2 separate regions of the Homo sapiens genome follow, and region 2 is linked to region 1. The links come from fine-mapping of genetic effects on gene expression. Tissue or cell type: whole blood. Region 1 holds a variant in brackets; the other region holds the start of a gene. All regions are shown on one strand. Distances are between the middles of the regions.

What was found. PIP is the estimated chance that this variant, and not a neighbour inherited with it, causes the effect.
Region 2: it holds the start of ZFP69, and the variant in region 1 is the best candidate, but not a certain one, in a credible set for the expression of ZFP69 in whole blood (Lepik 2017, PIP 0.55).

The regions. Positions count from the first base shown.
Region 1 is chr1:40,557,680-40,563,056 of GRCh38, reverse strand. It overlaps the pseudogene LOC100328982. Among named protein-coding and RNA genes, the nearest start is that of ZNF684, 29 kb to the right of the region's middle. The variant G/A (reference allele first, on the strand shown) is at 2,694.
Region 2 is chr1:40,475,240-40,480,616 of GRCh38, reverse strand. ZFP69 (ZFP69 zinc finger protein) reads right to left here and starts at 3,327. Exons shown (of 6, transcript NM_001320179.2): 1 at 2,723-3,327; 2 at 1,129-1,581. The coding sequence starts at 1,255. RefSeq lists a silencer at 3,119-3,588.

The sequences.
Region 1 (5,377 bases):
TCTACTAAAAATACAAAATTAGCCGGGCATGGTGGCACATGCTTGTAATCCCAGCTACTCGGGAGGCTGAGGCAGGAGAATTGCTTGAAGGCGGGAGGCAGAGGTTGCAGTGAGCCAAGATCGCGCCATTGCACTCCAGCCTGGGCGACAAGAGCAATACTCCATCTCAAAAAAAAAAAAGAAAAAGAAATGTACATTCAGATAACAATGAGACATTATTTCTCTCAACCCATTGGGCAAAGATTAAGACTTATAATATTCATTAGTGAGGGTATGAGGAAACAGATACCCTCATATGCCGTTGGAAGGAGTATCAATTGTTATAAACTTTTTTTGGGGAGCAATTTGGCAATATTTATTAAACATCTTTTGACCCAGCAATTCCAATTTCAGAAATTCATCTTCATTAAGATAACTAATGACTTCCTTGCCACTAAATCCAATGGAAAGTTTTCAATCCTTTTTATACTTGATTTCTTGACATTATTTGGCCCTGTTGACTACACAGTCTTCCTCAAAACTCTTTCCTCTCATAGTAACCTGGTTTCCTCTCATAGTAACCTGGTTTTTCTCTTACCTCTCTGATCACTCTCAATCTCCTTTACTCATCAATGTTGGGGTTCCCCAGGTTGGAACCTAAGCCCTCTTCTTACTCTACTTACTCCTCCTATGTGATGTCATCTATTCGTATAGCTTCAAATGCCATTTGAATGCTGACAACTCAAATGTACACTTGCAGCTGAGACCTCAAGCCAGACAGTTACAGACCCAAGTACGTGCCAGATGAATATCCAGTTTGAAACACAGTGCCTGACTTAGAATAGGTAATCAATAAATATCTACCCAATGAAACAAACACCTACTTGGATGTCTCAAAGGCATCTAAATTAACATGCTAAATTCCAACTTTATCTCCTGCTTTTCTTTCATGTTTAGGAAATGATCAGGAAATTGAGTTCAGGAAATCATACCTCCAACCACCAAAATGTTTAAGTCAGAAAAATATGAGTCATCCTTGATTTCTTTTTCTCCCTCCTCCCTCACATCTGCTCCATCACTAAATCTAAATATCTCTTTGCTGGGTGTGGTGGCTGACGCCTGTAATCCCAACACCATGAGAGGCCCAAGTGGGAAGATCATTTGAGCCCAGGAGTTCAAGACCAGCCTGGGCAATATAGGGAGACTCCATCTTTACCAAAAAGAAAAAAAATAAGGCCAGGCGTGGTGGCTCATGCCTGTAATCCCAGCACTTTGGGAGGCCGAGGCAAGCAGATCACCTGAGGACGGGAGTTCGAGACCAGCCTGACCAACATGGAGAAACCCCATCTCTACTAGAAATACAAAATTATCTGGCTGTGGTGGTGTATGCCAGCTACTTGGGAGGCTGAGGCAGGAGAATCACTTGAACCCAGGAGGCGGAGGTTGCAGTGAGCTGAGATTGCGCCATTGCACTCCAGCCTGTGCAACAAGAGTGAAAAATCCATCTCAAAAGAAAAAGAAAGAAAAAAAAATAGCTGGGTGTGGTGGCATGCACCTGTAGTCCCAACTACTCAAGAGGCCGAGATAGGAAGATCACTTGAGCCCAGGAGGACGAGGCTGCAGTGAGCCATGATTGCACCACTGTGTTCCAGCCTGGGTGACAGAGAGAGACCTTGTCGCTAAATAAATAAATAAATAAGTATCTCTGCTGCCACCACTTTTTTCTGAGCCACTGTGATCTCTCACCTCTCCTCCTAGTTGGTCTATATACCATGTTGCCTTTCTGCAATATAATCTCCTCTTTTTATGCCCATTTCTTAAATATTTGTGTTCCTCAAGGTTCTTCTCTGTTTCTTTTTCTTCTCTTCTTACGTATCAACCAAGTCCATGGCTTTAATGACCAATCTATGGTGACAACTCATAAATTTGTACCTTTACCCGGGATCTCTCTCAGACCTTGATATCTACTACCTACCATCTAGACTTCTTTAATTGGATGTCCCACAGGCACTTCAAATTTTTTTTTATTTACAATTGTTTTATTTGTGTTCCTCATGCTACAACACAACCTTAAAAGTCAGCCAAGTATATAACATTAATATGCCTCCTCAAAACATCAACTTAGATAACCCATAGCCAGAGCTTCTAAACTTCTACAATGCAACTTCAACATTCAAAAGAGCACAATATGCTTCAAATCCCATCTCAATGCAAATTTAAGAAAAGCAAAGCAAATTGTATTATCAGACTACGAAAACTCAGTACGATTCTGTAATTTAACATACTACTTCTCAACTCTCTAAATTTGTTTCTCAACACTGGGGAGAGTTTTTAAAGATATCAGTGCCTGAATTCTACTCCAAGCCAATCAAATCAGAATCTCTCTGGGGCATTTTTTTGTTAAAGCTTCCCCAGCAACTCTAATGTCAGCGAGAGTTGGGAATCACTGCTTAACAGAACCTCTTATGAAGCAAAAACATAAAGAAAAATAAGCCGGGCACAGTGGCTCACGCCTGTAATCCCAGCACTTTGGGAGGCCAAGGCGGGCAGATCACCTGAGGTCAGGAGTTTGAGACCAGCCTGGCCAACATGGTGAAACCCCATCTCTATTAAAAATATAAGTATTAGCTGGGTGTGGTGGCACGTGCCTGTAATCTCAGCTACTCGGGAGGCTGAGGCAGGAGAATCGCTTGAACCAAGGAGGCAGAGGTTGC[G/A]GTGAGCCCAGATCGTGCCACTTTACTCTAGCCTAGGTGACAGAGCGAGCCTCCATCTCAAAAAAAAAAAAAAAAAAAAAAAAAAAAAAAGATAAAGCACAGGAAGTAAGTATAGGGACATGGGGAATAAGTTAAAAATCAAAAGGACTCACTCATTGCTTTCCAACATCTTTTTCTTCTTGACCTTTTGAAACGTCCAAAAATTCGTAATATTACAATCTGTGTCATGATAATAAAACAGTTAAGAAAAAAACATAAAATGAAGGCCTACAAAGATCTTTGTTATTCATCTAGAATTATTTGGTATAACAGTATTTTCTAATGGAGGAAGACTATTGGATTTCAGGCATAAAACAATGCAGAAAAAATCTCAAGGCATCACAGGGAGAGGGAGATAACTTCTGACTCTGGTTTCCTGTGTTTCAGGCCAGGAAGAGCAAGGGGAGAAAAAGATTTGTCCATGGGAACAAGTACTCATGCTCTAAAGGACAATTTCATTTGAACCCACTAATTTCCTTTTCATGAAAAATTTCAAAGATAAAGCAACATAAAATATGAGGACAAAGAAAAGGGAGACGGTCTTCAAGGAGAATTTGTGCCTTTAAGTTTTTACTGGTACCTCAGTCCTTCAGCCTGGAGCTACTCAAAGATGAATCATGAAAAAGAAAAAAACTGTATTTCAAACAGGTTCAGTGGTGTATGTGTGTGCTACAGCAAAAGCTGGTTGTAGCAAAGTTTCATTTCAAACTGTATGATTTGGGCTGCGCAAGGTGGCTCATGCCTGTAATCCCAGCACTTTGGGAGGCCAAGGTGGGCTGATCACCCTGAGGTCAGGAGAGACCAGCCTGGCCAACATGTTGAAACCCCATCTCTACTAAAAATACAAAAATTAGCCAGGTGTGGTGGCACGGGCCTGTAATCTCAGCTACTCAGGAGGTTGAGGCAGGAGAATCGCTTGAACCCAGGAGGCAGAGGTTGCAGTGAGCCGAGATCGTACCACTGCACTCCAGCCTGGGTGACAGAGTGAGCCCACCGCTGCACTGTGGGAACCCCTCTCTGGGCTGGCCTAGGCTGGAGCCGGCTTCCTCGGCTTGTGGGGAGGTGTGGACAGAGAGGCGCGGGCGGGAACCGGGGCTGCGTGCCGCGCTGGCAGGCCAGCGCGAGTTCCGGGTGGGCGTGGGCTCTGCGGGCCCCACACTCCAAGCGGCCGGCTGGGCGCCGCTGGCCCCAGGCAGTGCGGGGCTTAGCACCCAGGCCAGCAGCTGCGGAGGTCCCCCAGCAGTGCTGACCCGCCAGCGCTGAGCTCGAATTCTCGCTGGGCCTCAGCTGCCTCCCCGCGGGGCAGGGCTGGGGACCTGCAGCCCGCCATGCCCGAGCCTCCCCCCCGCAGTGGGCTCCTGCACGGCCGGAGCATCCCCGATGAGCGCCACCGTCTGCTCTGCTGTGCCTGGTCCCATCCACCACCCAGGGGCTGAGGAGTGCGGGCACAGGGCACGGGACTGGCGGGCGGATCCACTAGGTGAAGCCAGTTGGGCTCCTGAGTCTAGTGGGGACTTGGAGAACTTTTATGTCTAGCTGGAGGGCTGTATACACACCAATCAGCACCCTGTGTCTAGCTTAAGGTTTGTAAATGCACCAAACAGTGCTTTGTGTCTAGCTAATCTAGTGGGGACTTGGAGAACCTTTATGTCTAGCTAAAGGATTGCAAATACACCAATCAGCACTCTGTGTGTAGCTTAAGGTTTGTAAATGCACCAATCAGCACTCTGTATCTAGCTAATCTGGTGGGGACTTGGAGAACCTTTATGTCCAGCTAAGGGATTGTAAATACACCACTCAGCACTCTGAGTCTAGCTCAAGGTTTGTAAACACACCAATCAGCACTCTGAGTCTAGCTCAAGGTATGTAAACACACCAATCAGCACCCTGTATCTAGCTCAAGGTTTGTAAACGCACCAATCAGTGCCCTGTGTCTAGCTAATCTGGTGGGGACTTGGAGAACCTTTATGTCTAGCTAAGGGATTGTAAATACACCAGTCAGCACTCTGTGTCTAGCTCAAGGTTTGTAAACACACCAATCAGCACCCTGTGTCTAGCTTAAGGTTTGTAAATGCACCAATCAGTGCTCTGTGTCTAGCTAATCTGGTGGGGACTTGGAGAACCTTTATGTCTAGCTAAGGAATTGTAAATACACCAATCAGCACTCTGTGTCTAGCTCAAGGTTTGTAAACACACCAGTCAGCACCCTGTGTCTAGCTCAAGGTTTGTAAACACACCAATCAGTGCTCTGTGTCTAGCTAATCTAGTGGGAACTTGGAGAACTTTTGTGTCTAGCTCAGGGATTGTAAATGCATCAATCAGCTCTCTGTAAAACAGACCAATCAAAACAGACCCTGTCAAAATGGACCAATCAGCTCTCTGTAAAACAGACCAATCAGCTCTCTATAAAATGGACCAATCAGCAGGATGTGGGTGGGGCCAGATAAGGGAATAAAAGCAGGCTGCCAGAGCCAGCAGTGGCAGCTCACTGGCATTCCATTCCACCTTGTGGATGCTTTGTTCTTTTGCTGTTTGCAATAAATCTTGCTGCTGCACACTCTTTGGCTCCACAGTGCCTTTATGAGCTGTAACACTCACCACGAAGGTCTGCTGCTTCTCTCCTGAGGTTAGCGAGACGCCGACTC
Region 2 (5,377 bases), 82 kb after region 1:
CTTTTAAGTTTTCAAAACAGTGTTTGAAAATTGCATGGTTTTTTTTTTTTAACTCAGTTTAAAAAGACTAAAATGTTCTTTCAAAAGAGGCATCTAACTGTGTTCCTAATTCTGTATATGGGCTTAGGTTTTGTAACCAATAAAAAAAAAACTGCTATCAAATATGTAAAAAGCAATGCAAAAATTAGCCAGGCGTGGTGGCAGGCACCTGTAGTCCCAGCTGCTCAGGAGGCTGAGGCAGGAGAATCGCTTGAACCTGGGAGGCAGGAGTTGCAGTGAGCTGAGATTGCACCACTGCACTCCAGCCTGGGCGACACAGCGAGACTCCATCACCAAAAAAAAAAAAAAATCACAACCAGAACAAAGTTTTCCGTCGCTTGTGTTCCAAAATAACTTTTCTTAGGCTGCTTTCTATTATTTTGATTGAGGTGTATGCCTATCTCAATCCATTGGTAATCAGAATTAGAGATAATTATTCATTTTTCCATCTTTTAAGATGTTTAGCCAAAGTCCCTGCCTGACACAGCTAGAACAATAAATACTGGCTGAGTGTAAAGCATTAAAGGTATGAATTAAAACACCACATGAGACACATGACTTCCTCCATCCTTCTATTTACTCCTAACCAGACCACTAAATAAGGTGTGATTGTTGGGCATCTCTCCCACAGTTCAAGGTAACATGAGAGTAATCTGGCATGTCATTCCTGCCTCTCAGCAGATGAAAAGAAAAAACTGATACTTGTGATAAATATTGGGTTGGGGCTAAAATGACTGGAACCTGTGCAGGAAAACCCTTAGAGGACTTAAGGAGGGCAGAAATCTTAGACCTGTCTGTGAATCACATTCCCACACTCAGGCACCACTGGTGGGGAACACCTTGTATTCTGTCTTCCTGCTACATGTAGTATTTGAAGATGGGAGATGAGAGCAGCTGCAAGCACGTGTCACAAGGAGTCCATGCTGGACCCCAAGATTTTCCCTCACAGCTGTCCCCTTCCCAAAAACCACAAGAATGAACCCCCAGAGACCTTCTCTCCCTCCTTCTCTCCACTTCAATGAAGTGTGTACCTATCTTTTCACACACAAATGAGATCCCCTTCTTCCCCCTCCATCAGTCCATTCTCACCTTCTCCTTCAAACATTTTAGTCACATCCTCCCACAGGGGCGCCCCCTCCACGGCCTTCTTTGGATGTTGCAGCTTCACCCAGGTGCTGGCCTCGGTAGGCAGGGTGATCAGGAGCTGCTGTGGCATGATGCCTGCCTTACTGGACTTGTCCACTTCTGGTGAGGAAATTGCCAGAAGCTCTTGATGAGACGCTTCACAGTTGTGGGGTGTTGCTCAGATTCCAATCACCTGCCCTCAGGACTCTGGTGTGTCCCTGCAGCACCAGGACCTGGGGGTTCCTAGAGACTGATGTGACTTTAACAATTCTGGAAAACAAACTCCCCTTTAAATCAAGCACTTTCTTTGGGAGGCAGCCAGTTAGTTAGGTTTGAGTTCATGTCTCCATACTCTTTAGAGGAGCAAAAGGGAAGGGAAGAGGGATCCAGAAGCACTTGTCTCCAGAACTCCAGAATCTGCAGAAATATATTTAAAACTGCAAAATACCCAAAAGAAAAATATCCATGCAGGAATAAATATAATACATGTTCCTGGACGTGGCTCTATCTCCAGTTCTATACATACATACACAAACATGCAAAGATGTACAAACATGCACAGACCATGCCTCATCTTCCCTCCTTGTAAGCTGCATGCATCTTCTGCCTGGACACAGACGGGGTTTAAGAGGGCAGGCTTTGAAATCAGACAGCCTGGCTTAGAAACCTGACACTTGCACTTAAAAGCTCTATGACACTTCAACTCTCAGCTTCAGTTTCTTAATCTATAAAATGGAGATAATAATTGTATTCTATAGAGTTGTAATGTTGGTTGAGACAATGCTAGGCATACAGTAAACCCTTAATGAACATTGTTATAAACCTGTTATCATATTGCTGAATCATAGTATTAATTTTTAAAGTTATTTTTAGAAACCATTAAATCTGAATTTAAAGTTCAAAATATCTCAACTGACAGAATAATGACATAGCTGCATTTTGGCATGAACAAGCAGTGACAGCCACGTCACCACCCACGCAGATGCCCAGCAGCTGGCAAGTTCCTTGGAACCACACTGGGAAGATGCATCTTGGTTTCAGAAATGTTAAAATTGGGGAAGAGGGTATGTCTTCAAATGGTGTAAATTTAGTATAATGAGGACTACTGCAGAATAGTAATAGGCAAATTTGGAAACAACTCAAATCCATCATCTCAACCAAACCCTAGAATCTGAGCAGGTGCTTTGACCGTGACCAGGTCCAAAGTATACGGCACTCCAAGAACAGTCGGAGCTACGTGGGAAGGGAGCTGGCCCAACTTTTTGAAGTTTGTTGGAGAAGGATGGGTATGTGACTTATAGGCGTGTGTGTGTGTGTGTGTGTGTGTGTGACTATATGCAGAGACAGGAGCTGCGTGTGTTCTAGGAATTGGAGCTTGTGAGAAATATCCCACCCCTGAATACATAAAAAGTCTTGTTACCAAAGTGCACGAATTTTCGAATCTTACTCGGGAAACAGTTAATGGCTGAGAAGCTTCATATCGAAGATGCCCCACCCTCACAGTGCTCCCAGACATGCCACCCTCGGACTCAAAGACTGCACACAGACTCCTACTCACCACATCGGCCTTGGACCCAGGTAGGACCAGAGACGGGGGCGTGGGAGTGCTCACTCTTGAGGTTTTCAGCGGTAAAGAGTGTCTCTTTAGAGACGGACTGAGTGGTAACAGATATTGTTCCCTCCCGGCCTTTTATAGACAGACCACATCTCCACTCAACGCAATCATTCTCCAAGAAGCGTCCAGCGTTGAGGTCGGCTTCCTTCGGAAGCCCGGAGGACCCTCGGCCTCCGGAGTGGACGAGGGTCTGCTCCACATTCCCATCAAGGGCCCGCCCAGGCGGGTGGGCTTTCCCAGCAGCGCCCCCAGGAGCGAGGCTTTGAGGGCCGGAATGGGAGGGATGCCCTGAGCCGGCGTCTTGCAGACCCCGGGGAGGATACACCTCCCTGGCTGCCGCTTTAACACGGGGCTGGCGGCTGCAGCCAAGCCCACCCAGCCTGGCCTCTTAGGCCGCAGCCGGGTGTCTCGCCTGGCCTCTGCCTCCGGCCGCGCCCTCCCGGCCGCTTGCACCGCCGGCCGCTCTCGCTGCAGCCCTGGCGGTCCCGGGGCCCACCCCACGCGGTCCCGCTGCAGCTGCCACAACCCGCGCGTCTTCCGGCGGGTTGTGAGCCCCGGCCGCCGGCTCCGCCCACAGGGGGCTGCCACGGAGCCCGCCCTCTCCCGGGAAGCAGCGCGCGCCCTCGAACCCGGAAGCTGGAAGCCGCCCGAGCGCGCCCCCGAGGGCCGTCCGGAACCGTGGGTAGCGGCCACCCACCCACGCCGCCCCCCGTTTCCTCACAGCGGTCCTTGGGAGACCTCCTTCAGCCTTTCCGGTGAAGCGCCTTCCCTGTCATTCATTCATTCACTCATTCATTCATTCATTCATTCAGTTATCTATTCTGAGTGTGTAAGATCTACCCCCACATTCTTATTGGCCCTGCGTATACAGCAGTTAACAAAACGCAGTTCCTGCTTTCTTGGAACTTAATTACATTGAAATTAATTGACAATAACAAATAGAAAAATAAATAGATAATACCCCAGGCGATTGTGAGGACCATGAAGAAAAGGAAAGCAGGGTGGGGAGATGATGGGCTAGGATATTTGTATCAACCCACTGTAGAAAACAACAATAAAATTTAAAAATAAAATTCTGGAATACGTGTGTGTGTGTGTGTGTGTGTATGTGTATATATATATACATATATATATAATATATAAATTTGTTTTTGAGACGGAGTTTCGCTCTTGTTGCCCAAGCTGGAGTGCAGTGGCGCGATGTTGGCTCACCGCAACCTCTGCCTCCCGGGTTCAAGTGATTCTCCTGCCTCAGCCTCCAGAGTAGCTGGGATTACAGGCACGCATCACCATGCCTGTAATTTTGTATTTTTAGTAGAGATGGGGTTTCTCCATGCCTGAGCGACAAGAGCAAAACTCCATCTCAAAAAAAAAAAAAAAAGAAGAAGAAGAAGAAGACCCTCCTTACAATAACTGGGACCCCAAAGGGCAACAGCCTCAGGGTGAGGATGAATTGAAAATGGAACAGCTTAAAAGGAATTTACAGACTGCATCAAATTGCCTGTCTCAGACATTATCTTGGTTTAAGACTGTCTCTGACTATGGTGTCACCAGATGCTTGGCAAAAGCAAATAGGTGGAGGAAAGCCTTATAATTGTAGGGCCGACATTTTTCCTACACATAAGTTTTCATAGACAATGTCAAATACAGAATTAAAGATAACCAGGTACACAAAGAAACTAGATTCTTAGTGAGAACCAGCAGAAACACAAACATTGGAAATAGACCTGCAGAAACAACTGCTTTTAGAATTATTTGATGCAAACCGCAAAATAATATTTTCTTGGGCTGGACACAGTGGTTTATGTCTATAATCCCAGCACTTTGGGAGGCCAAGGCAGGTGGATTGCTTGAGCTCGGGAGTTCAAGACCAGCCTGGGCAACATGGCAAAACCCTGTCTCTACAAAATATCAAAAATTAGCCAGGTATGGTGGCACAGCCCTGAAGTCCCAGCTCTTCAAGAGGCTGAGATGGGAGGATCGCTTGAGCCCAGCAGGTTGATGCTGCAGTAAGTCACGATCATACCACTGCCCTTCAGCCTGGGTGACAGAGCAAGACCCTGGCTTAAAACATATGTATATTTTCTTGCTTACCTATTAGAGTTTTTAGGAAAAAAAGTAAAATAAAATCATATTTTCTTTGCCTGAAGAAATAAAAAAGATAACTTGGACAATTTTGGCAGGTACCTAAAAACTATACAAAGTGATAGAGCAGATTTAAAAAAAGAAGTAAATAGACTTCTCTTCTATGATTGAGAAATACAGTAACTAAATTAAGAACTCAGTTAATGGCAGATTAGACACTGCTGAATGTAGAATAAATTGAAAGGAAGGTAGGTCACAAGAAATTATCTAGAATAAAGCATTGAGAAACAAAAAATGTACCCTACAGAAGACAGAGTAAGAGAGATAGAGAATACAGTAAGAGGATCGAACTAAGTTTAACGAGAGATAAAGCTAGGGCAGAGACAGTATTTGAAGAAATAAGGGCTGAATATTTTTAGTACCTATGAAAGGAACCAGGTCACAGATATAAGATGCCATATAACTCTCTAGTGGGATAAATAAAAGAAACCCTTTTATTTATCTAGTCAAAGA